4 separate regions of the Homo sapiens genome follow, and all the other regions are linked to region 1. The links come from fine-mapping of genetic effects on gene expression. A gene starts in region 1. Each other region holds a variant in brackets. All regions are shown on one strand. Distances are from middle to middle.

What was found.
Region 2: its variant is fine-mapped to the expression of EFNA5 in thyroid (GTEx, PIP above 0.99).
Region 3: its variant is fine-mapped to the expression of EFNA5 in blood mononuclear cells (TOPMed, PIP above 0.99). The same link has a PIP of 0.9 or more in whole blood.
Region 4: its variant is fine-mapped to the expression of EFNA5 in whole blood (TOPMed, PIP above 0.99).

What each region holds. Positions count from the first base shown.
Region 1 is chr5:107,668,929-107,673,928 of GRCh38, reverse strand. EFNA5 (ephrin A5) reads left to right here and starts at 2,992. Exons shown (of 5, transcript NM_001962.3): 1 at 2,992-3,440. The coding sequence starts at 3,316. RefSeq lists silencers at 29-108, 1,480-1,549, 2,910-2,959, 3,530-3,599 and enhancers at 189-238, 140-639, 2,380-2,519, 3,230-3,359, 3,760-3,839.
Region 2 is chr5:107,509,139-107,517,620 of GRCh38, reverse strand. All of the region lies in intron 1 of EFNA5 (ephrin A5), which reads left to right. Among named protein-coding and RNA genes, the nearest start is that of EFNA5, 160 kb to the left of the region's middle. RefSeq lists silencers at 246-295, 5,239-5,533 and enhancers at 4,195-4,254, 5,239-5,533. The variant C/T (reference allele first, on the strand shown) is at 3,648.
Region 3 is chr5:107,470,318-107,478,799 of GRCh38, reverse strand. The region is part of intron 1 of EFNA5 (ephrin A5); the gene reads left to right. Among named protein-coding and RNA genes, the nearest start is that of EFNA5, 200 kb to the left of the region's middle. RefSeq lists enhancers at 3,915-4,064, 5,533-6,287. The variant G/A (reference allele first, on the strand shown) is at 4,089.
Region 4 is chr5:107,485,105-107,493,586 of GRCh38, reverse strand. All of the region lies in intron 1 of EFNA5 (ephrin A5), which reads left to right. Among named protein-coding and RNA genes, the nearest start is that of EFNA5, 180 kb to the left of the region's middle. The variant C/T (reference allele first, on the strand shown) is at 4,783.

The DNA.
Region 1 (5,000 bases):
ATTGGTCATAGCCCTAGATTTCCCATCAAATTCAACCCGGCCTGAGCGGCAGGCAATGCCCCTGCTGGGTGCGGATTGCAGGCCCACCACTGGAGGGCGTCTGGACGCTTCTAAACAGCTCTGAAGCGCCTGGAAATCCCGTCTGAGGACTGGAAAGCGCAGGAGGGTGAACGTGAGATTTGATTTTATTGGGCTAATAAGTAAAAAGGAGTGCAGGCAGGTGTGGGAGCAAAAGTAAACTGCCTTTTTTCTCCTGGGGATCTGCCCTTCCCACTAAGGCAGAAAACTCCCTAGGGAACATGAGAAAAAATACCGCTGCTCCCGAGCCCGCGGACCCCTTAAGGGCGGGTCTCGGGGGCCTGTGGCCCCGCAGAGCAGGCGTCGGGCTCACTTCCTGGGCGCTGGACGACAGTGGGGACGCGTCCCGAGGCGCTGGGACAGTCTCGCTGCCAGGAGATCGCTCTTCAGTGGCGGCTGAAGACCAGGCTTGCAACCTGCCCTTGAAGTCCAGGACCGAGGGGCCTTTTCCAACAATAAAGGAACTGCTTTTCTTCCCACAGCCCCCGCCCCCGGCCCTCATTTCTTTCCGCACCGGGTTCGATAAAGGCGTTTATTCTTTGGGGAGTGGGCAGCAAATCACCCTCAAGGTTGAAATGGAAGAGGTGTGAGGTTATTTCTGAAGGGCTCGTCTGCCGCATTCATTTCCTCTCTGTGGAAGGTTCGCGCTGAATTGTAATCACTTTAAACTGTGATTTGCCTGATTTTTAAAAACGTGTTTTCAGAGCATCACTTTAAAGAAAACTTGCTTCCTGCCCAAGAATCTTTAAATCCCAAGTGGGAAGAGGAGGGCTGAAAGGCACAGGAGGGGTGCTCAGACTTCCAGATAACCCAGCGCCAGGCAGCGTGCGGCGTGGAGAGCGGGTGGAATGGACAGGAACGCGCACTCCCTGAGGCTCCGTTCCAGCCCATCCGTCACCTGCGGGGCACCAGAGACAGATGCCGGCTCTCCAGCCAAAGGGTGGGCACAGGTTCCTTTAAAATCGAAAGACCCTACTCCCAGGTAAAAAGATGTCAAATCATTCCTTAGCCCAGACGGAATTCAGCACCCAAAGGGTTACACGTGGCTGCCGGGCTCCGGCGCAGGAGAGGGCGCCTCGGCACTCCCAGTAATTCAATTAGTCAGGTTTCTAGAAGGTGGGGCGGGGGAGGGGGTAGGAGGCGTGGGGAAGGGAGATTAGGAAAACGCCTCTTTCTCGTGGAGCAAACCAATCCGGTTGGAGTAAAGAGAGAGGAAAAACCCCCAATCTGTAAGCAAACAGTAGGCCGTTCCCTGACTGGTTGCTCCAGCTATCCCCCCACCGCGCTCCCACCCTTCCCAAGTAAACTGCTTGGAAGGAGGAAAAAAAAAAAAAAAAAAAAAAAGACAGTCCACATGACCCGGGCCGCAGCGGCAGCAGCGCTGGCTGGGCGCGGGCTGGCGGCACCTCCCCCTGCTTCGTCCGGAGCTCACACCCGCGCTCGCGCCGCCCGCCCGTCCCGCGTCCCGCGCAACACGCCCGGGCGGAGCCCCATCCCCCCGCCCACGTCCACGTTCACGCGTGCGGCCTCGCGCTCTGCTGAGGCTGCTGCCACTGGGTCGCCGCCGCTGTCGGCTTTCCACGCAAGTCATTAACGAGGGGGCGTGCCCGAGGAGATTTTTTTTCCCATAAAGCATTTTTTCTCTCGCTCTCTTTTTTTCCCCCTCTTTTGCAAAACTGACTTTTACAAAACCCTTTCCACTTCTTGCCAGTCGTTTCAATTCCTCCTGGGCTGCTCGTGCTGCTGCTGCTGCACTCAAGTTTATTTATTTTCCCGCCTGGGTAGGGGTTTTAGGATTCGGTTTGTGGTTTTCACCTCTGTTGCTGCTGTGCCTAAGGAGGGAAAGAGGAGCAGCTGCGGGAGGATCGGGAAGGTTTTCTGATGTAGTCATCGGGGAGGTGCCACTCGCTCGTGCGCTTTTTTTTTTTCCTCTTTTCCCATTTCAAACTGATTGATGCATCTCTACAAGTTGCTAGGCTTGGACCCGCTGGAGTCGCAGGGACACTTCTGAGAGCTCACCCCGGGCTCTTGGCACCGCGTGTGGGGGCTCAGTCTCCCTCTCGGAAGGCGATCGGAGACTGACATCGGCCCATCCAGGAGTTGGAGGGATCCATTTGAAAGTGATTGTTTCCCCTCCCGCTCTCCAGCCGAACAGTTGGGTTGGCGTCGTCTTGCAGGTTTAGGAATCCCAGCTCTGCCAGGCCGGCTGGTCTTAACCTCTGCTCTTCATTCACTGTGGTGCACCCACACCCAGCCAAGGAAAGCACGCGCGAGAAATCCCCGAGGCTCGGCCAGCCCCCGGGGTGCCCTCTTCCGCTACCGCCGCGTTCCGACTCTGCTGGGGGACCTGCCGGAAGACGCGAAGAGCCAAACTTTTCTTTGAGGTTTTCGAGGCAAGACCGCTTCGAAAGCCGGCGCAGCTGCCGCTTAACCAGTTCCAGGACACCGACAAGGCTGGGTTGCGGCTCCGGATCCCCACCCTTCTCGGCGCACCGCCCGGTACCGCAGCACTTACGACTCCTCTGAGATTTCTGGGGGTCGCCCCGCTAAGGCACAGAGGAGGCTGAGGAAAGGGGTTCTCAGACTCCCGGGACCACAAGCGCGAAGCCCTCTATCAGCACGTCGCCCTTCTCCTGCAGTTTCCCACCGGCCGCCAAAGTAACTTGGAGCGAAGCGTGGCGCAGTGCGAGGGCCCCGGGCGGTGGCGGAGCCGTGCGTAGCCTGCTGCGCCGACGCTGAGCCGGGCCCGGCGGGCCGGTGTATGTCTCCCCGCGGCTGCGGCGCGCAACTCCCGGTGACTGTGCAGCGCGCGCCGCCGCCTGCCCCGACCCGCGCTGCAGCCGCCCGGCCCGGCGCGCACCTCCCTCTCCCGGGGTGACCGGCCTGCCGCCGCCGCCCGAGACACAGCTTGGCACCTCTTCCCCCGCCCTCGCCGCCGCCACCACACACACGCACGCTTCTCTCCATCTTGTGATTCCTTTTTCCTCCTGAACCCTCCAGTGGGGGTGCGAGTTTGTCTTTATCACCCCCCATCCCACCGCCTTCTTTTCTTCTCGCTCTCCTACCCCTCCCCAGCTTGGTGGGCGCCTCTTTCCTTTCTCGCCCACTTTCATTTTTATTTATTCATATTTATTTGGCGCCCGCTCTCTCTCTGTCCCTTTGCCTGCCTCCCTCCCTCCGGATCCCCGCTCTCTCCCCGGAGTGGCGCGTCGGGGGCTCCGCCGCTGGCCAGGCGTGATGTTGCACGTGGAGATGTTGACGCTGGTGTTTCTGGTGCTCTGGATGTGTGTGTTCAGCCAGGACCCGGGCTCCAAGGCCGTCGCCGACCGCTACGCTGTCTACTGGAACAGCAGCAACCCCAGGTAAGCCGATAACAGGCGGAGAGCCAGGGCTACCCGGGCCTCGGGGCCCTGCGGAAGGAGCGGCGGCGGGGATCGGCGCGCACCAACCGCTGGCGGCGCGCACCCTCGGAGCCTGCGTCGCCCGGGCGCTGATGGCTTGAGGCGTCGGCGGGAAGCGCTCGCGTCGCGCCCCTCTTTGTTAAGCCGCCGCGGAAAGGCCAGGTACCCCTGGGAGTCCCCGGGGCTGCCTAGACCAACTGCTTCTGCGGGGCGCCGGGAGACTCGGAAAAGGGCGGGAGCCGGGGAGTAGGGACTTCTCTGCTTCCCAGCCCCGGCATCTGGCTGGCATCCGGTTCCCGGCGCGGGGAGCCCCCAGTGTGCGCAGCCGGGAGCTCCTTCCTGGAGCGTGGGTCCGCAGGGACTGCGGAGAGAACCCGCCAAACATCCCCCAAAGTTTTTTTTTTTTTTTTTTTTTTTTTAATTTTAATTTTCCCTTCTCTTTTCCCGGTGCGCGCAGAGAGAGCGCACGGGCTGGGGGAAGTGAGGGGGGCTGGGAAGCGGAAGCTTTAGGTTTTTATTTTCCTCTTCAACTGCGAGGAAATCATTCGGCCCCTGAGTCAGTCTGGGCCCGGCGCGCCTGGCAGTGGAGAGGATTCTCCCATCTTCTCCATCCCTCCACCCACCCCAGTGGGTTCAAGGTGCCAGAAAGTTTGATCTAATGCCGGGTTACGTCATGTGTGCAGAACAAGCTGCCAGAGTTGGCCGAGCCAGGAGGTGGGAGCCCTTCGCCCGCGGCCTGGCGATGTGCTGCCGGAGGAACGCGCGCGATTACCTGGAACCGATTTGTAGGCGTCCCGAAGCCCGCCGGGTATGCGGGAGACTAGAGGTGGGCGCCGGGGGCGGTCCTAGTGCGCGTGCTGGACACCGGCCAGTCGCAGACGTCCCGTGTTTTCGGACCCTGGAAGTGGAGTGGGGAGGTTATCCAGAGTGCCCGGCGGGGTCCTCCGGGTCTGGAGCAGTTCCGAACCTTTATTGCTTCCCGGCCTGTGCACAGAAGTCGGCCCCGCTAGGCCCATACCGCACTGCTTTCTCTGGGACAGAGGCTAGCTTCCAGCTGTGTGCCGGTCTCGGTGCCCTCCTAGGTGCTATTTATTAATAGTACCGATTGCATCTAAAGTCACAGGTTTTTCACTGGGCTGGAGTGGAAGTTGGGAAGAGAGAGGCGGGAGGCCGAGGGGTTAGCCTAAGAGTTGGTGCGCGCCCCGGGCTCCAGGAGAGAGGGTATCGGTGGGCGCCTCCAGTTTTTTCTATCTCCTGCGGGCCCTCTCCGCCTGCCTCCAGCCTCCCCTCAGCATGCAGGCAAGAGAGGGATTCCCTGCTTGAATAATGTCAGCGCAGATGAAGATGGGAAGATTTCCCCACAAGCAGTCCGCCGGTTACAGAACCAGGAGGGAGTTCCCCCTATCCCGCTAGTCCAAGATAGTCTTACTCAGGTAGCCGCCCAAGTCCTAAATGAACCGCTGAACAGGAGTGGAGATATTCCTGAAAGTTTGGTTCAAAAAACAAGAGTCTCCTGGAGGT
Region 2 (8,482 bases), 160 kb after region 1:
ATTTTCATATCTTGGCATATACAGAAAACCAAGATCTTTATTGGGCACACAAGAAGAGGCTAAAAGGATAATAATGATAGTGAGCACTTTTAAACTTTTCTCATATATTGAATTTAATATTCACAACAACCGTATGAGGTCAGTACTATTACTAGTGTTTACAGATGAGGAAACTAAAGTACAAGAAGCACCGAGTGATTTGTCCTGAAGTCACAGAGCAGTAGGTGGCCGACCTAGGCAGTCTGGCCCGGAGTTCAGTACTTTTATCACTGTGCTTCAACACACCTGTAACCCTCTCCTGAGTCACCATGATTGTATAGGAGTGGAGAAAAGAACAGAAACCATAATTTGCATGATGAATACTGTGAGATAGCATCATTGTCTTCTAGTTTCTCCTCCCTGCACCCTATAACCTGTAAGCTTTTATAAATACTGGACTTTTTTCCATCTTTTTTTTTTTTTAGTAACAGTGTTATTGAGATGTAATTTACATACCATAAAATTCATGAGGTGTAAATGTACAATCAATGAATTTTAGTGTATTTACAGAGCCATCCAGTCATCACGATATAATTTTATGACGTGTGTATTCTAGAAAGGTTGATACCCATTTATAGTCATCCCCTGTGCCTACCCCCAGCCCTAGATAGCCTGTCATCTATTTTCTGTCTCTATATACTTGCCTTTTTGGGACATTTTGTACAAATGGAATCATACAATATGTGTTCTTTTATGTCTGACTTCTTTCACTGAATATAATATTTTTGAGGTTCTAGATATTGGACTTTTATGTAACATATTTTATTATTTTTCAGACATCACTGAAATGTTTCCTAAGCCTACAGAGGAGCAAGGAGCCCTGGCTTTACTAAATAAATGCTGTGGTTTGCAGCTGTCACACATGGTTTAGATTTACCATTGAGGGAAAACATCATCACCATCATCATAAGCTTCCCAGATAATTAAGTACTTAGATGTGGGCTTCATGGTATTTAAAGCATTCTTTCTTTTACGGCCATATGTGTAGTGTATCAAAGAAGCAGTTTGGGAGGAACAGGAGTTGTCAATTCTATAAAAACAAAAATAACTTGAAGTGGTTATTTCTCATAATATAGTTAAAACAGTTGTTTGATTAACAGATTAGCAGACCAACAGGTTGTTTTGGGCACTACATAGACACAAGCCCAAGTCATTTCCTTTCATAGAGGTTTTTCTTTTTTACTTTTGAGGATTAAATTCTCTTGATTCCTGTATATCGTGGCTGCTTAAAAAAAATAAAACTCAACCAGGCATGGTGGCTCAGGCCTATAATCCCAGCACTTTGGGAGGCCGAGGCGAGAGGATTGCTTAAGGCCAGGGTTTGCCACCAGCCTAGGCAACATAGTGTAAACTCGTCTGTCCAAAAATTAACACACACACACACACACACACACACACACACACACAAAACTAGCCAGGCATTGTGGTGCCCATTTTTGGTCCTAGCTACTTAGGAGGCTGAGGCAGGAGGATCACTTGAGCCCGGTTACTTGAGGCTGCAGTGAGCCATGATTATACCACTGCGCTTCAGCGTGGGCGACAGTGTGAGACTGTGTCTCAAAAATGAAATAAAATTCTAGTGTCTAGGGCTGTAGGTCATTTGAATTGTAAGGATAAGTAACCCAACATAAATGGTAATTCAACAAATGGATGATGTAACAAGCTCTACAGTAAAATAAACCCTGTTCATTTTTAAACTGCTTTGGGATGATTTTTAGTTTCTTGGGCTTGGATTCTCCTGTGTACAACATATCTCATAGATAGATAGCCTTTGGGGCGTGAGCATGAGTAGGAAGAGGTTATAAGATTAGGAAGTACCCAGAGTTCTGTATTATAACACATTGATTTGATTTGTGGAGTCCAGGCCTTAAGTAGATAAAACAGAGCACTTTAAAAGCCATGTCTGCTGGGTGCAGTGGCTCATTCCTGTAATCCCAGCACTTTGGGAGGCCAAGGCAGGCAGGTCACCTGAGTTTGAGAGTTCGAGACCAGCCTGACCAACATGGAGAAACCCTGTCTCTACGAAAAACACAAAATTAGCCTGGTGTGGTGGCGCATGCCTGTAGTCCCAGCTACTAGGGAGGCTGAGGCAGGAGAATCGTTTGAACCCAGCAGGCGGAGGTTGCATTGAGCCGAGATTGTGCCACTGCACTCTAGCCTGGCAACACAGCAAGACTCCATCTCAATAATAATAATAATAATAATAATAATAATAATAAAATAAAAAATAAAAACCATGTCTTGATGCTGGGCATGGGGGCTCACATCTGTATTCCCAGCACTTTGGGAGGCTGAGGCAGGCGGATCACTTGACGTCAGGAGTTGAGACCAGCCTGGCCAACATGGTGGAACCCCATCTCTACTAAAAAATACAAAAATTAGCCAGGTGTGGTGGCTCAGTCGCCTGTAATCCCAGCTACTTGGGAGGCTGAGGCAGGAGAATCACTTGAACCCAGAAGGCGGAGGTTACAGTGCAAGTGGACTTTCTAGTTGATTGGGACCATCTTGTCTGCTCCTTGACAGTACACGTGGCTGGCAGAGAAAGGAAGATGGAGCTGCCATCCTGCACATGTCTAGTCCTTAGTTCCTGCCGGCATTCACCCATGCAAGCTCCTAGCTTGCAGGCAGCTCTTTGTTAGAAAATGATTTGGGGCTGTTTTTCTGTTTTTCATTAAAAAGAAAAGCCTTATCAAGGACTCCCATGCCCTTGCTATCTGCCTAATTTCTTCTTAACTCCTATATCATAAGGAGAGGTAGGAGATTAAGTCAGTGAAGTAAGGAAAGAGGAGACGGGAGGCAGGTCACGTAGGACCTCATAGAATCCTTGTAGAGACTTGGGCTTTTACTCTGAATGAGACAGGAAGCCATTGGAGGGTCTGAGCATTTGTTTCTCCTCCTTTGAAGAATAATTTTTTTATTTGCTTGACAATAAAAAGGGTTAGCACATTTCCATTTTTAGGGTTACCATTGGCCTTTGTGTTGATGGTTCCTTCTGGCAGAAAAATAAATCTGCCCTTGTATGTCAGCTTCCTTGGGTCTCCCACACACTCGTCAGGTTGTGGAGAAGTTTGAATTTAAAACAAGCATTTCACAAATGACTCACGTTCCAGGTGGGATGATGTGTTCTCTGCCTACCACAGAGAAGGGAGAAATCAGTTCACATGAAACAGTAACCTTTTCTTTCTCTCTGCATTTTCCTAGGAGCAGAAAAGCACACAAATGCTTTCTTTCTGATTGTGTATTTGGAATGTTCCTTAAGATGGATCTCTGTTGAATTCCCAAGTGAATACTCCAATCTGTATTTAGTCTCAAATTCTGACAAAAAAGAAAACCTCTACCTGATGAGGAGCCCCGTCTCTCTGCTGTTTTCTTTAGGTCTGGAAGATCAGGGATGCTTCATAACTTGGTGCCAGAAGAGAAGGGAAGATTGATTGGGGTTTTATGAGGTGGCAAAATACATAGCTAAACCTGGGGACAGGGATGTCATTTAGCATGACAGAAACAGCAGAAAACAGGAATAGTGCTTTATTTTGTTGTTTTTGTTAAAGCAATGTGAGACTTGTTATTTCTACCCCCGTGGTCCTGGTTGTTTTTGTGTTCAGCACAGA[C/T]GTTCAGGAAACAGATTCCAGCACCAACACCTGTGCGACGCTGACCCAGGCCTACCTCGCAACATCCTCCTCTCTTACTGTATCACACAGATCAGCTTACATGTCACACTTATTTCCTCTCCCCTCTGCTCATCCATCCATAGCTATCCACTGAGCATTTCTGTCCCTCCCTCTGAGTTCTTGGAATTAAAGAAAAAACAACATAGAGCCCAGTATCTCAGTGAAGAGCCTGTTTTTAATGGACGGATACCACCAGCCTCTTTCTGTTCAGAAACATCTTATGAATCACAAGCAGTTTTGCAGGCTTGCAAGAAGCTGGTGCCCCACAGCACCCGTCATGTAGAATAAATAAATGAACAGTTGATTTCGGTGGGGTGTCGGTGTCCTATTTTTAGAATACCATGTTTTCTGCTGGGGCCATTCAGGTAGTTCTCGTTTTAAAATTCTAACATCTGCCCAGCATACATCTTCTGACATCTGGCTTCCACTTGCTACACAAGTGAGACACTTTGACTCATTTCCCCATCTTTGCAGTGGGAGAGTACCCATTCCTGACATGCTCTGAAATGGGGCAGGTAGCAAATGATTTGGAAACAAAACCCACAGAATCAACATGCTCATCACATTTTATTATTAATTGAGCTCCCAAGCGAGTGTTTCCTTGTAAATCCCAACAGGCTTTTATTTGATAGAGTCTCTCTCTCTCTCTCTCCCTCTCCCTCTCCTCTTGGCTCAGGAGGGGGCAAAGCTGCCCCTCTTTTCCCAGCCCCAAATCTCTGACTACAGTAGGACTTAAGCACAGCAGCCTGAGCTGAAGCATGTCATCCCTGAAACAAAGCTACAGAGGCATGGTGCCAAGGCAGCCAGGGAAGCACAAATTACCTCTCATGCCTGGTGGGTGAGGCCCCTAGCCCCATCCCTGAGTCCATTCCTCCTGGCCACTGGGTACGTAAGTACCCATCAGGAAGGGGCAGAGCCTCTTTCTACTAAGAGTAGTACAGTCCAAATCATCAAAGGAGACCTCATCAAGACTAGCTCACTTGGAGACTTCTTCACCAAGGAGCACAGACTTAAATTTACAGTTGATTCTCTCCACAGCAATTTTATGTCTTCAAAGAGCTCCCCAATTATTTTTATTACGTTTTCTTGGTAAGCAACCCATGGTGAGGTAGTGCACAATGAACTACCTGAGGTATAAAAGAAGTTAAGTGATTTACTCAGAAAGAGTGGTTAGCAGGGTTGCCTTTGAATTCAGAACAGCATTCTCGGTGATTGCTGCTTGATGGAGCTGTCATCTTGGAGTTAAGTTCTCGTATATGCTTTTGCAAAAACACCATGGTGTGTGTTTGGCTCTGGCAAAACTTTATCTCATTGCTCTATTTTAATGGCAATAATCACTGGAAATCAGCACAAAGTCTTCAGCTTCTTAACCTGGGTGACATGCTTCAGTTTTGTGCCTTCTGTGACTCTCTGTAATGATGGCCTACAAGAACTGTAAACCTCCTAGAAGGTAAAAAAAAACAGGCTAGAGTATTGATTTCAGGTTGTGTGAGGAAGAAACAAGGTGGGGGTTTTTGTGTTTTTTGTTGTTGTTGTTGTTGTTGTTGTTTTGTTTGTTTTGTTTTGCCCCTCAGCTTGCAAATCAGTTGCTTATACCCAGGCGATTGCAGCCATTTACACCCTACTGAGGAGCCTATGTGGGGTTCTTTAACCACTGAGCCAGGATTGATTGACAGCCACTGTCTTCAACTACAACAGAGATGGAGTGAGCGCTTATACAGACTCAGTGGGGTGGGACTTCCCTGTTGAATGCTGCTTTATGTCTTTTCAGGCAAATGCCATTTACATCTGCCCACCATTTGAAGTCTCTTTTGACTTTCTATTTCTTTCGAAAGGAAGTAAAACAAGTGTTGCAGGAGCCACAGATAGCATCATGGCATTTTCTTCATTTTCTCAAAATGCACCTTTTGGGTGTTTTGTGAGCAAGATCTTAAGGAAAGTAGGTCTTTTCAGATGAAAATTTTGTGAAGTCTTACTATGATGTAAGCTAATGAAAATTTGGGGGAATGCATTGTGAGTAGGCAGGGCTATAATTGTTTTTTAGCCCTTTGAACAAACCATGTCTACATATAACATGTTCATGGTGCCACATTATTAGTCAGGTTTTTTTTAAGAAAAGTAATATATGTATGCATTGATAGATAAGAACTATTTTTTTTATGATAGTTTTGATGTTAAATAGGCAGTGGTGATAAGGATGAATTTAGAGCTATGCTATTAGATGATTTAGGGCACTTAATTTACAGATTAAAGTTGAAACTAAAAAGATTGTTGTACTTTTAAAAAAGCTTCAGGTTGGAATGTAACACTTTATAAATGGATATTCATAGAAAGTCACAATAGCAAAATATAGATTTACAAAATCAGTGTATTTTTTAGGATACCATTTATTTTATTATTAAAATACTGAGTTTATTTTACATGTATATTTTTGTTTCTCTACCAGTTTCATGCTTGACTACCACTACTACTATATTCTATCATAATATTCCATACATCCATTTACTTTAAAAATGTGTTCAAATATCCCTGATCTCATCATCTTTTCAAACTTCGTGGGGATTTTATATTTAGAAATGCAACTATGGTGCCGGGAGCAGTGGCTCACTCTTGTAATCCCAGCACTTTGGGATGCCGAGGCGGGCTGATCACCTGAGGTCAGAAGTTCGAGACCAGCCTGACCAACATGGTGAAACCCTGTCTCTACTAAAAATACAAAATTAGCCAGGCGTGGTGGCGCATGCCTGTTATCCCAGCTGCTAGAGAGGCTGAGACAGGAGAATCACTTGAACCTGGGAGGCAGAGGTTGCAGTGAGCCAAGATCGTGCCATTGCACTCCAGCCTGGGCAACAAGAGCAAAACTCTCCGTCTCACACACACACACACACACACACACACACACACACACACAAAGAAAAAGAAAGAAATGCAACTATGTTGAAATAATTATATAATCATTTTGATGACCATCCAGTCCACAAGGTTGAATTAACCATGTAGTTTAAAATAGTTTCTGTTTGAGAGTATTGTAAAGTAAGAAAAGATTTTTGGTCCTTGCAAAATCCTGAGTAGGTAGCTCGTTGTCATCCTAGTCTCAGTGTGTAGCTTTGGAGAAACTGATCACAACTTTTTTGAGACTGTGTTAAAACTTGCATCCAGGAGGTTTATAAAAAAAGATTGGGCTGTTCTGGTCTTCAGCACCTCATGACTTATTTTCTAAATTGTGACCCAGTCTTTCTAGTTTATTTCTTTACTCATATATTCAAGAAAACGTACTAAGCACCTACTTGTCATAAACATTTAAGACTTCCTGGTAACCACCATTTAAAGTATTCATATTGTAGTATTACCAGAAAGGGGTCCAGATCCAGACCCCAAGAGAGGGTTCTTGGATCTCGCAAGGAGTTTGGTGCAAGTCCCTAGAGTAAAGTGAAAGGAAAGTAAAGGAATAAAAGAATGGCTACTCCATAGGCAGAGCAGCAGCTTGAGGTGCTAGACTAAGGATACTTACAGTTATTTCTTGATTATAGGCTAAACAGAGAGTGGATTATTTATGAGTTTTCTGGGAAAGGGTGAACAATTCCTGGAACTGCAGGTTACTCCCCATTTCAGACCATGTAGGGTAACTTCCTGACATTGCCATGGCATTTGTAACTGTCATGGCACTGGTGGGAGTGTCTTTTAGCATGCTAATGTGTTGTAATTAGCATATAATGAGCAGCGAGGATGACCAGAGGTTACATTCATGGCCATCTTGGTTTTCGTGGATTTTGGTTGGCTTCTTTACCACATGCTGTTTTATCAGCAAGGTCTTTATGACCTGTACCTTGTGTTGACCTCCTATCTCATCCTGTGGCTAAGAATCTCTTACCCTCCTGGGAAAGCAGCCTAGTAGCTCTCAGCCTCATTTTACATAGCCCTTATTCAAGATGGAGTTGCTGTGATTCAAATGCCTTTGACAGTAGCATACAGTGAAATGATGATCATGGAGCATATTGTTATTAACTAATGGCGTAATCATTTCCATGAATTATTCAGTCATTAAACATTTATGTTCTGAGTGTCCATTATGTGCCATTCAATACACAGATATTTATTGAGCATCTGCTAGGATCAAGGACTCTTCTGGGTTCTAGAAATATACTAATGAATGTAATAGGCAAAAATTTCTGCCCTCGTGAAGGCCGTATTCCAGTGTTCCTCATCTACGTTTTTAAATCATTTATAACCATTCATCTGTATATGAGTATATTTTTAAGGGGTGTAAAAAGAGTTGACACTCAGGCCGGGTGTGGTGGCTCATGCCTGTAACCCCAGCACTTTGGGAGGCCAAGGCGGGCGGATCACGAGGTCAGGAGTTCAAGACCAGCTTGGCCAACATGGTGAAACTCCGTCTCCACTAAAAATACAAAAAAAAAAAAAAAAAAATTAGCCAAGCATGGTGGCACATGCTTGTAATCCCAGCTACTCGGGAGGCTGAGGGAGGAGAATCGCTTGAATCCTGGAGGCAGAGGTTGCAGTGAGCTGAGATCGCACCATTGCACTGCAGCCTGGGCGACAGGGTGAGACTCCACCTCAGAAAACAAAAAAAAAAAAGGAAAAGAAAAAGAGTTGACACTCACTTTTGCTCTTTTGTGTTGGTTCTTTCAGATGAAAAGAACAAATAGTCATCTTAAAGAGTCTGTAAAAGGGTATCTAAAGACATCTGCTCTTATGTATTAATGGGTTATAAGAAAATTTTTAGCAAAATTGCATTAGAGACTACTAACATGTCA
Region 3 (8,482 bases), 200 kb after region 1:
AATAGAAGCATGAAAATAATCATTTTACAAAAATAATTAGATACTACAGGATTTCTATTGGTTCCAGAAGTAAACTCAGGTGACCTTGTCCTATTTATTAAGACCAATGAGCTCCACTTGGTACGTTTCTTCCTTTGCCCCTGCTACTTCTCCGTACTTTTTACATGCTGTCTAGAAGTTTTCAACTTTCATGCTGTATATTTTTTCCTGTCTGACTTTTATGACTTCCCCCATAAAATGTATTCGTTGTCTGAGTCTCACAAATCCTAAACTACTTAATGGCTATGGCTGCATCCATTATGCTGCACTGTGTGTTTGCGTGTGTGCTCTCCCGACATCTGTGTAGATATCTTCTGAAATTTACAAAACCTTTGTAACTAATCCCATAGGTTAACCGGAGTAGGGGCAGTATTTGTTGTTGCTAATTACACAGTGGAAGCCTTTGGGAAATAGGCCCTTTGTTAATGATAAATTTGAGCAAGCAACTAAACATTCCTGAATAATGCTGAGAATATTACTCGCCTAGGTCTTTATGACTATGGATCTCTTGCCTGCCTCCTCTTTCTCCGTAGAAGTCTGGCCACTGTGCCTGATATGCATATTAATTGCTGGATCAGGAGGAGAAGCAGGGAGCTTCCTTTGGCAACAGGGTGTAACACAAACAGCTGAGTAATGAGGTACATGTGGATTATTAGGTATGACATAATGAGTAGCATTTCTATCATGGCATTATATATCTGTCAGGGTTTTTGGTCAGGCTTTTTCCTTCCTAGGGTTTAAAAACCCTGCTCATGTATTTCGGTGGTTATCACTAAAAATGGCCAGAAATCCCACTGCTACCAATCAGTTATGCTACCTCTAAATATCAGCCTCTGATTGATAGCTTGTTAAAGTGAGTTTCAAAACCAAGGGGAACTCTCTTTAGAGGAGGTATGTATTTGATTTAGGGTATATTGATTTGCATAATTTAGCAAATAAAGTACTATATAGTTAAAGGTCTGGAGACATTTACTTTTACCTAACTTAAAAAAAATAATATATTGTGGCCTAGATTAGTCACATAAGAGCCACCCTGTAAAAAGGAAACAGTGCAGGTAGAAGTTAGTCAAGAGAACACAATAGCCACACCTTGAGAAACCTTTCACCTGTGGCTTAGTTATTACTATCAGGTTACCCAAAAGAAAGAAGGGTTATATAGAGAAATAAAAAAGATTTATAACATGTATCCCCAAAAGACACCTGAAAAATAAGAGAATAGGATAAATGTAATTGCCAGAGATCCTTTTACAGTTATAAATTAATGTAGACAATTTTCTAGAGCAGTAATACCTCATGTAAGAAAGCCCTTTGCCAATATGTATTTTCTGCTTGTTTTAAATCACATATGCGACTTTGGTTCTAGATTTGTACCTTTAAACAGTCCAGAAAGATAAGAGTTTCTGCAGATATTATTCTATTGATTGCTTAATTCAAAAGATTATAAATTACTTCATCTGTTTTAGTGGAAGAGAAAGTCTTACATAGGTACATAAATATCTATATGTTAATATTATGATTAGTATCTCTTATCTACACATTGACCTATTCCTTATGTTTCTCCGTAGCTTCTTACCAAGACATTTTTTTTCTCTCTTGATAAGCCAGTAACCTCCCTTTTGAAACTGTGTGATGTTTCTCTTTTTGTTTTGGTTACTAGGAGGCTCAGCTGGCTTTCGTGTTGAGTTGCCACACAGCCTTTCCTGTTCATTGTCACAGACCCAGCAGCACCTAGCACATAGTGATACAAATGCTCAGCAAATAGACACTAAATCAGCAAATGTGTGACTTGAAATAGTTTTTCATTATGACTGATTTCCTGTCCACTTTATGTCTGGCTTTTTTGTTTTTAAGCTATATAAGGTGTAATGATTTCATTCTGTCTGATTCTGATTTGTGAACCACATCAAATCATTTCATCAAGGAGTCAGGGTATAGTATAACCTGAAAGGAATATGCCTCTGTTTTATACACTGTGACAACACAGTTTGGATGTTCCTGTGAGAGAGAGAGAGAGAGAGAGAGAGAAAGAGAAAAAATAAACATTTTAAGGGCAGCTAAATGGACTAAGAATAAAGCATTTCTGTAGGGACTTCAAATCAGAGAGTCCTGATACATAAAATTACAGGTATTGGACTTCATAGAAAGCTAATGAAATGTTTCTCCCCAAATTCTGTCAGATATCCCTATTGAACTGGTCATTTTCATTTGTTTTATATTTAATGAAACCAGAGGGAGAAACAGCAGGAATAGAAGGGTCTGTTTTGAAACTCTAAACAAGCCACCTGATGATTTTGTTTATCACTTGAACAGCTCTGGGTTCTTGTTTTGAAAATACAGATGTGTAAAGGTTTACATAGTTCCATTCTAAGTATAATATACTCTATTTTGCTCTCAAGAATATAGTTCTTGACTGGGCACAGTGGCTCACTCCTGTAATCCCAGCACTTTGGGAGGCTGAGGTGGGTGGATCACCTGAGGTCAGGAGTTCAAGACCAGCCTGGCCAACATTGTGAAACCGAATCTCTACTAAAAACACAAAAAATTAGCTGGGCGTGGTGGCAGGTGCCTGTAACCCCAGCTACTCGGGAGGCTGAGGCAGGAGAATTGCTTGAACTTGGGAGGCGGAGGTTGCAGTGAGCCGAGATCGCGCCATTACACTCCAGCCTGAGCAACAAGAGCAAGACTCTGTCTCAAAAAAAAAAAATATATATATAGTTTAAAAACTCTCAAGCCACCTTGGTATCTTCCATCTCATGTTTTATAGATGTTCAAACTGTACCATTTCAAACAGGTGCCGTGCTGTGAAAAACATGAACACAGTTTGAAATTCACTCTTGTAAAATATTTTGATATTAGCATTTTTAAAGGATCTGGGAAGTGTTGATATTCATTAACAACATCTCATTGCTCCAGAAACAGTTCAGCCTGGGTATTTTGAGGCTGAAGTCATGTCATCTCAGGTAGAACAACACAAAGGGCTTGCACTTTGGGGTAGTTCTCGTGAGAAATATGTAATCAGATTGTGGATACCCTAGACAAATCTTCTGTCTTAAGATGTATAAGTCTTATGCAGGGTAAGAATGTTGCTGACATAGTCCTTGAACAGCCTTCAAAATTATACTGGCTTTTCAGGCTCTGTTCCCCTTTAGCAATGCAGCAGATTGAAATAACTTCTGAAGCACTTTGAAAATATTGTGCTACTGAAAGCCTTAGAATCTCTTGACATTTTTCTCCCAGGATCCTCACCAGATCCTTTGACGTGGACAGTGGTGGCATTTTGTTTCTCTTGAGTTTCTTGAAAAGTTCATATAAACCACCATTCTCTCCCAAAACCTTTTGCAGTTTTCTGTGCTACATTTTCATAGGACATTACTGAACACTACAAACCATCTGCCGTTTCACACTTTGCTAGCTGAGGTCAGTGATACTGATAGCTGGGTAAGTGTGAAGTATGTGAAATGATTAGCCATCTCACAAGGGTGGGGTTGCACCAGTACCTGTTTGAAAAGCTCTTGTATGTTAATCCACAAAGACAAATTAATTATTAACATTTAATATCGTATAACTTACAGGGAGAAAAAAGGATTGTTTATTCACTGTGCTACTGTGACACCTTTGTTCAACAGGGAGCGTGTTACAAATGCCACAAGTAGTAACTTGAGGATACATCCTTTAACAGCTTATTAGTAGTCATTTCCCAGTCAAGTAAACATCTTAGCTCAGAAGTTTGTTTAGTAAAGCACAGTCATATTGTGGAAGCAGGAAGTAACCTCACATTGCACAAACACTGTCTTAACAGTGGGACAGAAACTTTTCTAATGACAATGATTTTTATGTAAATTGTATAGGCCTTGAATGGTAGGAACCTAGACAGTTATGAGTCAACATAATTGTCCTTTCCCTTAGAATGGCCCTTAATTAGTCATTCATTTATGTTGTCTTAGATCTTCGGGGCTTCTTCTTGCCTCTGGCAGGTCAGCCAGCATCATTCTGGAACATGGTGGCCTCTTGCTAAAAATATTTAACAAGATTGAGGTGGTGTTTCCTGT[G/A]TTAGCCAATATTTGATACCAACAGGCCTGACATATTTTAACAAAGTTAGTGGCCTAAAGATACGCCCTTCAACAGGATAAAGCCATCCCAGGATGCTATAGGTGGGTGAATTGCAATTAAACCATTCCTCGTTCGTAATGCAAAGATGCATGGTTGCATGACAGCACCTCCCTGTATTGTATTAGTCATGCCTGGAGGAAAACTCAACAAGGGTTTCTGATCCTCTGGGAAATTTTTACATACTAGATTTGAACTCAGACTGTTTGAAATCCTTGAAAACTCCATTGTGGCTGTTCAGTGCTGATGACCATTTCTTAAAATGGAAAACAATCTGTAAAATATTATTGATTACTTGGTATACTGAAAAGTGACAAAGGCGTGGGTGCTTTGGCAAGGGATGCAAACTTTCATGGCTAATGCAGCCGGCAGGTACCTAAGTGAGAAAATCAGACCTGGTGTACAAACTGGGTGTCATCCACTCCAGCAGAATATTTCTGTGTAAGAAGAATGTGGAGCCAGTGGCATCTGATCATCCAAGTTTTCAAGAGAAGGTAGAAACATGTACTTTATTTGAAATCTCTGGGTTTCTAAATATTGGTTCAGATGACTCTGAAACATTGTACTGGCTAAACTCAAGTGTACAGGGCCGAAATTGATTCACAGGCCATCAGTTTACAATCTGTCTTTTATGGAGATCTGTGTCAAAAGCATGATAGTCATGTATTTGCTATGTGGATGTTAAAGTCAAATGAGGCCAGGCATGGTGGCTCATGCCTGTAATCCCAGCACTTTGGGAGGCCGAGAAAGGCGGATCACGAGGTCAGGAGATCAAGACCATCCTTGATAACATGGTGGAACCCCATCTCTACTAAAAATGCAAAAATTCGCTGGGCGTGGTGGCACATGCCTGTAATCCCAGCTATTCAGAAGGCTGAGGCAGGAGAATCACTTGAACCCGGGAGGCAGAGGTTGCAGTGAGCCGAGATCACACCATTTGCACTCCAGCTTGGGCAACAAGAGCGAAACTCTGTCTCAAAAAAAAAAAAAAAAATTCAAGTGAAAATCCGATTGTTAATGAATTAGAATATCGGATCATAACACGTTCTAGAGCTGGAAGAATGTGTCATGGTTTGGCATCTGTTCCACACCAAATTGTAGAGTGTTAGGCTACCTGTATTTTCAGATTCCTTCTGCTTTGAGAATTAAATCTGTTGTAGTCACATTCTGACTTTGGGCATAGTTCTATTTGCCTCCCCAGTGAGCAGACACCTGGCTCTTCTTGGTGTGTATATGAAAAGTAGAATAAGTGGAATTCATTAGAAGCTGGCTGCTATCATGTTTAGGGAATTCAAGAATGATATCAACAAGGAGAATGAATAAAAGAAATATTTAAAGACCCAAACTCCACTAAGATGAGTAGACTCAGACTGAAAAAAAAAAAAAAAAAATCAGACCTGGAAGCAATGGGGAATGATGTGGCTTTTTAGAGTCAAGATTTGGGTCGAATAGAGTGTAAGTTTCAGAGGCAAAGTTTCAACCAATGTCAGCAGTACAAAGGCTACAACTTCCAACATCAGATCTCCATCAGTAACAACATCTTGGAAGAGGGCAGAGTTGTTTGCAGAAAAACGGTGGCTGGGGTCCCTGGAATGAGTGAGAGCAACCCCAGGAGGTAAGGTATAGGTGAATGAAGAGTTCAAGCAGGTGCTGGGGGGAGGGAGACTGGGGGCTCCATTTACAGTGTTGAGATGCCTGCAGGGGCTAAGAATATCAAAGGTTTGTTCAAATATCCTTCAGCCTTTTCATCAGCTCGACATTTGCATCCCTTGGTCCTACCAGCTTTATTTCAACAGTGAGTACACTCAGATGACTGAGCCAGCTCACGTTACTGATCTCTATCTGTTTGTCATTCTAGCTCTCTTACCTCCCACATGAGTTGTACCTTTTTGGTGCAAATAAGCTGCCAGAGCTGGCTTGGCTTGATCTCTGTGCTGCAGATGTCTCTAATTAACTTGATTGAGACAGGTCCATGGGATCCTGTTGCACAGTCTGACAAGTCCCACTGTCCTGGGAGGCACTATCCCATCACCTGAAGCATGCCTTTTGCTAATGTCCTTTGGGCAAAGTTTATTAATGACTAAAGTCTTCAAGTACCCATAGTTTTAATATGAAAGCTGTGGAGTGATGGTTGCTAATTTGCAGCCAGGAGTGTAAGAATTATCTCAAGTTCTCATTTAAATTCTGAGTAGAAATCTCCAGAGACCTTTACTAACAACTTCTAGTGTTTTTAACATCCAAAGTGTTACAATTTTTATCATCACTAATACTATTAACATTATTATTTGCAGTAGCTGAGAGAAACACGGTCTTGAGTCACTGCAAGTATAGACGCTTACGATAAAAATATTTGATGACGCCATCGTAACCTAGTGACAAAACATGTAATAAAACAAGTGTTTGGAAGTACTGGTTTGACTAGTTGTGAGATCTGCTAGATGTCTAATTACTGTAGGTTAAATTAGCCCCCAAGCATTGTAGAGAATGGATTTGTCTTTATTTCCTTTAATATCCACATTTACTCTTGTTTTTCTGGAATAATAAATTATTCAATCAAACTTTATATTTTGTGTGTATGGCTTTGTGCATGTGTTTTCTGTGAATATCTATAGCTTTTCAGAACTTGTGTATATCACTGCAGACTTAAGGCTATTTGCACTCTTTGAAACAATATAGCAGTTATTTCTAAAACGTATGGACATGGATATAACTTATTAAATGTTAAAAGAAACAATAGATAAATCTTCAACTACATGTAAGAACTACTACATATGTAATATCACTGTCTTTATTATCCCCTATAGCTACAACACCAAGCTATGAAGGAGAATACTGTATTCTTTGATGTTTAAATTCTTTTTTCATTAGTTACCATTCACATGTGGATGGATCACCAAATACATCTTTTCAGCTGTTGTAAATAATCACAATCCATGGTCCAGCCATCACTAAGCAACATGGCCTTGCCCTACCCATAATTTACAAGTGGATTCACCTATTAGTAGAAGTAGTTCATTATCGGTTATCCAGGCTACATTATTCAGTTGGAGGATTAATGTTTCTATCATCAACTGACTAGCATGAATTTGTAGACCATGTGCCCCAAAATGAAGGATAAAGACAAGATAGTGACATGATCCTTATCAATGCCAAGGAATATAAAATGTTACTGGGACCATGTCTCAGATTTAGAAAAAATAATCTCTGTAACTGCACACATTAAGTGTAATAATATCCTCAGTCCTGTGCAGTCTCAGAAAGGGAAGAGATCTTGGTGGGCTATGAAGGTAATGAAAGCTTAACAGAACTTAACCACTGAAGAAAGCCCAGTGGAGGAGTGAGGGAATTGGAGGCAAAAAGGGGGAATCAACAGAGGCCTGAAGGTAGGAGTTTGCACAGCAGGTGAGAAGACCAGGTTACAGAAGAGTCCTGGGAATTGAGGCTGGATAGGTTCCATGCTACCAAAATATGGGGAGTGCGAAGGACCAAGCACAAATTAGAATTGATTTTACAGAATAGGGAGTCACTGGGGTTCCTAACCTGGGAAAGCCTGATGAATTGGGAGGCGATAAGGAGACAAGTGAGACCAGCTAGAAGGTAATTATACTAATTGCATGAGTGACAATAGTATTGCATGAGCCTGCGGTATTAAAATGGGTTCTGAGAGATCTGAGAAGGATATCAAGAAAGAAATCATCAGAACTTAGTAGATGGGTTTTTCTTGAAGAAAAGAGATAAAAAAGACATCTTACTCCTGATTTCGTGTATTTTTATTTTTAATTTTTTTTAGAGATAAGGTCTTGCTATTTTGCCTAGGCTGGTCTCGAACTCCTGGGCTCAAGTGATTCTCCTGCCTCCGCCTTGTCCTGATTTCATTTCATCATTCTTGTGGACATGTCCACCACAAAGTACAGAATAGAGAAGTGAAATTTCAAAAAGTTTAGTTTATCCATTATCAGCAATGTTAATCTTTAAAATATTAAAGGGGAGAAGAATTTATGAATTGTTGAAGGAGTGCCGAAATTGAGAATTGATATAGAATTTAGAGGCACATTTTAAAATTCCCATCTATGCATCATTAGGAGAAAACTTCAGCAACTGACTGATTCTATCAGCTTCTCTGTTTAGTCCTCCAATTTTAATCAAATAAGACTGACACAGACATTAATGGTTTCACTGCTATTATACCATTCTCTCTGGTCAAGTCTCAATGCTGCCATGCATATGATAATTGGAGATTAGTCATTTCCTTGGATATACTTCATCATCCTCAGAAGCCGTATAATAACAATTGGGTGTCATTTGCTTTGGGTCCAGCTTGGAGGCTTAAAATAGC
Region 4 (8,482 bases), 180 kb after region 1:
TTCGGTTTTCCAGAGTCTTGTAATATACTTGTTTGTTTTTGTTTTTGTTTTTTCTTGGTAAAGGAATTTAGGCATTGGAGCCATGGTATTTAGGCAACTTTTTCTTTTCTGCAAAAGCAGGCTGGTAGGAACAGTGACTATTGGTAGGGCCTAGCTAAAGAGAAACAAGGTGTGGAAAACACTGCAGTTACCGCACACATTCAGCAGTCTGGGTCCTTTAACTTTTTTTTTTAATCAGTAATTCACTTCAGATAACAACTCTAGAGATAAAATATGCCTTAGGGGTTGGCTGAAGGGAGAGAGAACAAAGGTTTTATTGGTCTTTATCTCCTATTTAGTAGAAAATATTTGGTTGTAAAAGATAAAAAAAAAACAAAAAACAAAAAACAACTATGGTGTTTGCTCTAGAAAGTGAACAAATAAAAGTAATTATTCTGGAGAGACATTATGTAACAAATAGGATATATCTCCTTTTCTCTAGGTGGTGGCTTCAAATCTAAAATAATGTATATATTTTTAAGCATTTTTTTAGCTTTCCTGTTGAAAAAAAATCTTACAAGAATAGATCTTAAAGATGTATTTTTTTTTTTTTTTGAGATGGAGTCTCTGTCCCCAGGCTGGAGTGCAGTGGCGTGATCTCTGCTCACTGCAACCTCCGCCTCCCGGTTCAAGCGATCCTCCTACCTCAGCCTCCTGAATAGTTGGGATTACAGGTGCCCGCCACCACACTCTGCTAATTTTTGTATTTTTAGTAGAGACGAGGTTTCACCATGTTGGCCAAGCTGGTCTCAAACTCCTGACCTCAGATGATCCGCCCGCCTCGGCCTCCGAAGGTGCTGGGATTACAGGCATGATCCACCGTGCTCGGCCAAGGATGATTTTCTTTCAGAGTGAAATTGAGAGCCCTAAGGTATCCTTAATTTTGTTAAGGTTCTGGTGGCGTCTGGTGGCTTCTTTCTCTAATGGGAGTCTTGCCTGTGAGAGTGACTGAGGTGAGAATAAACACATTCCTGAAGCTTCTTAAGTCATACTGAAGAGAATGAGATGATCACAACTGATAAATGAAATAATGTGTATTTACTTGAAATGCTGAACTTTTGTCAAGCATACCTTAGAGGGAAAAATAACATGCTTTCCTTTAAAAACACATTATCTATTTTTTAAATTCACTAACTTTTATAATGTCAAAGTAGGTAATGATCTTTCTAGCTGAATAGTTATCATAATAAAAGGATGACATATAACTGTTTCTTAACAGTGTCCAGGTGCAGTGTTTTAGATATAAAATCTTTGAAGCATTTTTTCCAAAATGTATTTTGAATATTTTTTTTAAAGGTTAGATTTTTAAAAAGTTTTTGTAACTTTATAAGACTGAATAATTTTTTTTAAACATGGTTTAGGAAAGTTTGTAGTTGTTTTGCTTTTATTTGTACTTTTAAAATTACATTTTTAGGCCAGGGGTGGTGGCTCATACCTGTAATTCCAGCACTTTGGGAGGCAGAGGTGAGCAGATTACTTGAGGCCAAGAGTTTGAGACCAGCCTGGCCAATATGGCGAAACCCTGTCTCGAATAAAAATACAAAAATTAGCCTGGCATAGTGGCGCGCACCTGTAATCCCAGCTACTCGGGAGGCTGAAGCATGAGAATCGCTTGATCCCTGGAGGCGGAGGTTGCAGTGAGCCGAGATTGCACCACTGCACACTCTAGCCTGGGCGACAGGGTGAGACTCTGTCTCAAAAAATTAATTAATTTAATTTTTAGTATTTGAATGTATAATACATATACCTGATACAAAACTTAAAAGCTATAAAAGGGTATACAGTGAAAAACATGTCTTCTTCCCACTCCTATTTTCCAACTATTCAGTTCCCCTCTGAAGAGGCAATCTTTGCACATAGATTTTGTGGATACACATATAAAGTCATAAAAATTGCAGACTTCCCTTATTCCAGTCACCAAGAAAAAAGAAAGAACAGTCTGGGTGCGGTGGCTCATGCCTGTAATCCCAGCACTTTGGGAGGCCAAGGCAGGTGGATCACCTGAGGTTAGGAGTTCCGGACCAGCTTGGCCAACATGGTGAAACCCGTCTCTACTAAAAATACAAAAAGTAGCCAGGCATGGTGGTGGACACCTGTAATCCCAGCTACTCAGGATGCTGAGGCAGGAGAATCACTTGAACCCGGGAGGCAGAGGTTGTGGTGAGCTGAGATCACGCCATTGCACTTCAGCCTGGGCAACAAGAGCGGAACTCCATGGAAGGAAGGGAGGAAGGAGGGAGGGAGGGGCCGTCTGTATTGCCTTGAGAAAATGCTAGAATTAAGAGTTCTGCTGCCTGAAGTATATACCATGTTATAATTTTTAATATGCCTGGAGGTGGGGACTTGTCCTGTCGTTGGAGGCCGTTTGGCCAGACCATGGAAAAGCAAGCCTATGTCCTGTCCCTAATGGTGACAAAGCCAAGAGTCTCTGAACATTTTATTACGGAATTCTGATAACACATGTGCTCTCTAATTCATAAATCACTTCATATCACAATGTGGCTTGAATGAGAATAAATGTAAAATGTGTTCTTAAGCCTTAAGCAAGTATGGAACCCAGTTTGCTTTCTAGGAGCTGAGTTTGAAGATGATTGAAAGTAAAAGAGTTAATGAAACCTCATCTTGTTTTTAAATATATAATGAGCAGGATCTCTGCAAGATACCTTAATTAATACTGCCCTAATGGTTAAGATCATGTCCTGTTAGAGTATGTGTAACTAGGATTAATACTGAGGTGCTTTTCCCCACTGGATGGTGACACAGTAAGTAAAGAGGAATCTGAGTAGCCGCTGTAAGGCATTGGTCATGACAGTGCACATGCAGACTTCTTTACCTGTATCAGTGTCCTTTACCTATGCAGTGACAAGCATAAGTCAGCGGTTAATGTTCCCTGCCAAAGGAACTCTCATGTTGGATAAACTTTGCAGTGCAGGTGGTAGCCTACCCTGCACTTCCCTGAAAGGTGAGGGTGAAGATTTCACCCCCTCGCTGGCAGGCCTGCATCTTAATGCTGCAGGGTGAGGATGCAAGAGATGCTTGATTTCTTTTGAAAGGATTCATTTGATGATTCTTTTTTTGGAAAATGTCACGCAATTCAGGGAGATAGAATAATTGTTTAACTGAAAGCATGGGTGGGATGTGTTAAAAGCAATAGCTGGGCATGGTAACGTGCACCTGTAGTCTCAGCTACTTGGGAGGTGGAGGCAGGAGGATCCCATGAGCTAGGGAGTTGGAGTCTAACCTGGGCACCATAGGAAGATCAGGTCACTAAAATACATAAATAAATAAACAAATAAATGACATAGTGTGAAGCAAGTTCACTATGCACTGGTTACCAACTTCTCTGAGTCTAGTGAGACAGAACACCCAAGCACACAAGTTATACAAAGCGGGTTTATTATCTATAGATAGGCATCAAGGAATAACATAATCCTAGAATTAATTGCTAGCTAGCTGGTCCCCCATGGTTCAAGCAAGCTGCCAAGGAAAGATGGAATCTTGTCCCTGCATGCCCCACTTGTACCCCAGCTGAGGGACCCTGGAGATCCACCCACCCTGGGTTTTATACCCTGAGTCATGAGATCTTCTGGGCTAAAGTGTTGAAGGACATCCTGTTCTGGGGACATTGGAACTAAGTCCAGCTGTTTCAGCCAGGTCCCCTCTTATCTCAGGATGTTGCATTCCTAGCACACTGGTACAGTTATTCTTGAGAGCTACAAGCAAGAAAGAGCATAACTGAGTCAGTGCAAGGCCACTCAGAGAACTTTCCTGTACATAGTCCTTGCTATGGATATGTTTTCTCATTTTGCCACAAATAAATGATATGAAAAACTGATAATGTTCAGTTGCAGGAATGAAACATTAGTGTTAGATCTTGGTGGGGGGGGTAGGTGGGGTCAAATCAATCACAAAATGCTTGGAAGCTTTAGGGTCCAGTGAAGGCACCTGAGGTTCCAGGTACCTTTTAGAATGTGAACTTAGGTTCACATTGGACTAAAACTTTTTTAGGTATGATTTTAACATTAACCCACAGAAAATTTTAATCTGTTAAGTTTGGTTTAAATTTTATCTGGTCCAGGACGGGCACGGTGGTTCATGCCTGTAATCCCAGCACTTTGGGAGGCCAGGGCAGGCAGATCACCTGAGGTCAGGATTTTGAGACCAGCCTGGTCTTGGTAAAACCCTGTCTCTACTAAAAATACAATAATTAGCCAGACATGGTGGCACGTGCCTGTAATCCCAGCTACTAGAGAGGCTGGGGCAGGAGAAATGCTTGAACCTGGAAGGCGGCGGTTGCAGTGAGCCAAGATTGCCCTACTGCATTCCAGCCTGGGTGACAGAGCAAGACTCCATCTAAATAAACAAACAAATTTTGTCTGGTCCAATACATGAGTTTGCAATAGATTAAATGAAATATTGTAATGATGGTAATAGTTAACTTATTGATAACCTATTATATATACCTTGAATTTTAAATCCATATTTTATTTTGGGAGGTATAACACTGAATCCCTCAGGTACAGGCTTTGGACAGTATCTTAAAAGAGGTTTTTTTGTGGCCGGGCGCAGTGGCTCATGCCTGTAATCCTAGCACTTTGGGAGGTGAAGGCAGGCGGATCGTGAGGTCAGGAGTTCAAGACCAGCCTGCCCAACAGGTGAAAACCCATCTCTACTAAAAAATACAAAAAATTAGCCAGGCGTCGTGGCACTCGCCTGTAATCCCAGCTACTTGGGAGGCTGAGG[C/T]GGGAGACTCGCTTCAACCCAGGAGGCAGAGGTTGCAGTGATTTGAGATCGTGCCATTGCACTGTAGCCTGGGCGACAGAGCAAGACGCTGTCTTGGAAAAAAAAAGAGTTTTTTTGTTTTTCGGTCTTAATGTTTCTTTTAAGGGCTCACTAGTTGTGTGTGTGTGTCTTCTTAAGAAGTGAGTCATAATAAAACCAGGTATAGCTTCTGAATGGAGTGCTCTTTTAAACTTGGGATTTGTAAAATAATTTGATGCTTGTAGGATTCCCTGCTGACAGCTGGAGTTTTAAAAAGGGTACTTCAACAAGAGGAAGCCCCTGCAAACCCTTTCTGATAGAGAATAACTAGAGATATCTGGGAAACCCAAAGCAGAAGAGTCTAGCACATCATTTCTTTACTTCACTCACCGTCTTTGACTTTGGGGATTAATGTGAAACAGACAATAATCTAAATAGACTTGAATAAACTTCAGAAACATTACTTTATACAATGTAAGAAATTTACAAAAATAAAACCAATGAGTGAGTGAATGAATCAATCAATCAATAAAAAAATTGAACTAAGCCGCAAGATGGGGGATAAGATAACATTTGTATACAGCGGTTAGTATTTCTAGCTGCTTTTAGCTCTAGTATATTTTCTTTTGTTATCTCCCACATGGGACTCATGTACTCCCTGAGAAAAGCAAATCTTCCTCTCAACATTTGTGTTTTAAATAGACCACCATTTTTCTGGGACCCCAGGCTCAAAACATTAATTGATATTAGAGACCCTAAAGGCTGCTGACTGGAATATTAGACCATCTTAGATTTCTATTTTCACATTTCCATAGGCAATACTCCCCTTTAAGTCCATTTCCCATGTAATGTTGGATATAATACAGTAGTCTGCTAGCTGGTCTATCCAGCCTCATCGCATAGGGAGTAATCTTTGTAAAATTAAATTCAGCAAATATTTGTTGGCACCTGTTATACAAACACTGTGCTTGTTGCTATAGGGGATACAAATATGATTAGGACACAAACCCTGTTTTCAAGGAGCTTTACAGTCCAAGGGGGAATAAGATTGGCATAAACATAGCTGACATTCAAGGCACAAGGTGCTACAGGGCTGAACAAAATTATCATTTTGCTGCTCATGAAGTTATCATGATTCCCTATTACCTTTTGGATCAAGTGAAAAATTCTCATTCTTTGTAATTTGACACCTGCTGGCTGCTTACATTTACATTTTACTTCTATCCAACAAACCTCTACTCTGCCCCTGTCATCTGCCTAATACTCTCATGGACACAGCCATGCAGATATTCCTTCTTTCCTTTATTCATTCATTATTTCTGCAAATACTAACTGCTTGTCAGATACTGTGCTAGATGCTCTGGGGGAAACAAAAGTGAATCACTCACTGCCTTGAGCAACTCACTATCCATTGGAAGGGGATTAAACAAAGTTTTTAAGGAACAGTGTTTTGTAACAGAATGCACAAAGTGCTGAGGGAGGAGAGAGGAGCTGAAGGCCTCACAGAGGAAGTGAATCCTGCCAGAAGTTGGTTAGGTGTTCACCCGGGGGGAAGAGGGAGTGGGGGCCATTACAGGCACAGCAGTGTGTCCCAGTTCATGGAGGCAGAGCAGAATGTGGCTCAATCAGAGTGCTGACGGCAGGAATACAGGATGGGAACTAGTGGGCAAAAATAACATTGGGAAACAGAGCCAGATACCATGGGCCTTGACCCTATGCTAAGGAAGTTGTTCTTTATCTTTTGTGCCAGGCGATTCCATTTGAAGTTCAAACAGAGATGTGAACAGATGTAGGTCTTAGAATGCTCTAGCAGCAATGTGGAGTATTTGAGAGATATTGGAGGCAGACAGGTCAGCCAAAGGGGGAAGGAAACTAAAGTATAAATACACTGAGGAGACCCTAAAATTCTTTTCATAGTAACTTTCTCTAGCTCCTCCCTGCCTTGGTATCTATATTTGTCAGGACAGAATATATTGTGCTGCAGTAACAAACAGCCCCAGGATCTCAGGGGTTTGACAGAGTTTATTAAGGCAGGTAACTATTATCTGTGTGTGACTCAATGATAGAGGCCTCTTCAGTCTTGTGGTTTTGTCATCTCAACACAAACCACCACATAAGAGAACACTGAAGAGTCTTGCTTCAGCCCAAAAGTGACTCATGTTCCTTCCGCCCACAACTCTGCCTAACTCTAAGGTAGTAGAGAGGTATAATACTCTCATACGCCCAGAAGGAGAAGAAAGTTAGATATGGGTGAACTCTATAAACTGATGTCTTTCTTTTATCTTTTATAGCCTCAGGATTTCCATAAGTTACCCGAACCACTCTCCACTATGTAGTTATGCATTTTTTTTTAGAATTATCATCATAAGTTCTTTCTTATGGGTGTGTCTTGTTTCTCTAGCTACCTGAACCTGATTAGGTTGTATCTTCCATATCTTTTAGCTTTTAAAGTTCCTTACCAGTCCTACTCCTGAAGGAGAAGCCGGTAGGCTAAATAAGTGCCTGTGAATATACATAGGGTTGAATTTGGCAGTGTGGCTTTTTTCTAGCAGGGCCTGGGTGCTCTTTCACACACACTCAGGAATCATCTGATTTGTTTTTTCCTTTGTTTGCTATTTCATGTCCATCAAATTATTGGAATTTTATTTGAGTTAAAATGAATCAATAAGGATTGGTCTCTGTTTTACTGTAACGCCTTTAATGTCATTTCACCTGCGAGACACTCATTTCTCGTCTCAGCCTAGTGAAAATTGCACATTTACCCTCAACATGACATTGTCTTGGCACGTTTTAAAGGTGAACCTGAAAGTTTAAGGGCATCTAAATATGCCGTGCTCGCTTCAGTATCCAGTTGGCGAGGTTCAATAGAAAACAAATCAATTGTCATCCCCTGTTGAAAATAAGCACACAAAGATCTAGCTTAAAAAAAACGAACATTGTAAAATGAATTCATACGCAGTAGAAGGTGAGGTCGAGACCCGTGGAGAACTTTATCTGAGACAGTGTTTGTTTACCTAGACCGAACATTTCATCCTTTCTTGGTCAATCTCTTTGACTTTTTCTTTCCTACTAAGCCTGACTTTTAAAATAAGTGAGAGTCAGTGAAGCAAACCCCAGTTCCGATTAGTTCCCCATAGCATAAAGACAGAATAAGTGAGTATCTCTAACTTTTGAACATAATCCATAGGAAGTAGGTATGGCAATAATTATTTCTGGTCCAGCACAGAAAGCTAACAGATCAATTCACTCTTTCTCAAGGACCAATTCTATCACAAACATTTTCTTCCCAGAGAAAAAAAGAGAGAGAGAGAGAGATTCATTCAGTAGTAATAGGACTTGCTGTTTATCTGTCATCCCCAAAACTTGAAACAGTTACACTAGCACACCTCAGGGGGTTACTTGCTGGCTTCCACTTCTGCCTGAGAATTTGCTACTGTGAAATGTGTGTATAGTCTTGCTTTCTTTTTTACATTGAATTTGCATTTTAATGTTTTTCATTCTTCATAGCTAAGAGGGAACTTTCTTTTTTCTAGTCATTTCTACCTTGGGACTGCTACAAGTTGAAGTCTGGCTAGAATTGGACCATCTAGTGCAGACAAAAGTTGAGATGCAGAAAAGGGATTTGAATAGAAGTGCAAGGAAAAAGAACAGGATTAGGAATTCAAACCCTCCTCTTAGATTT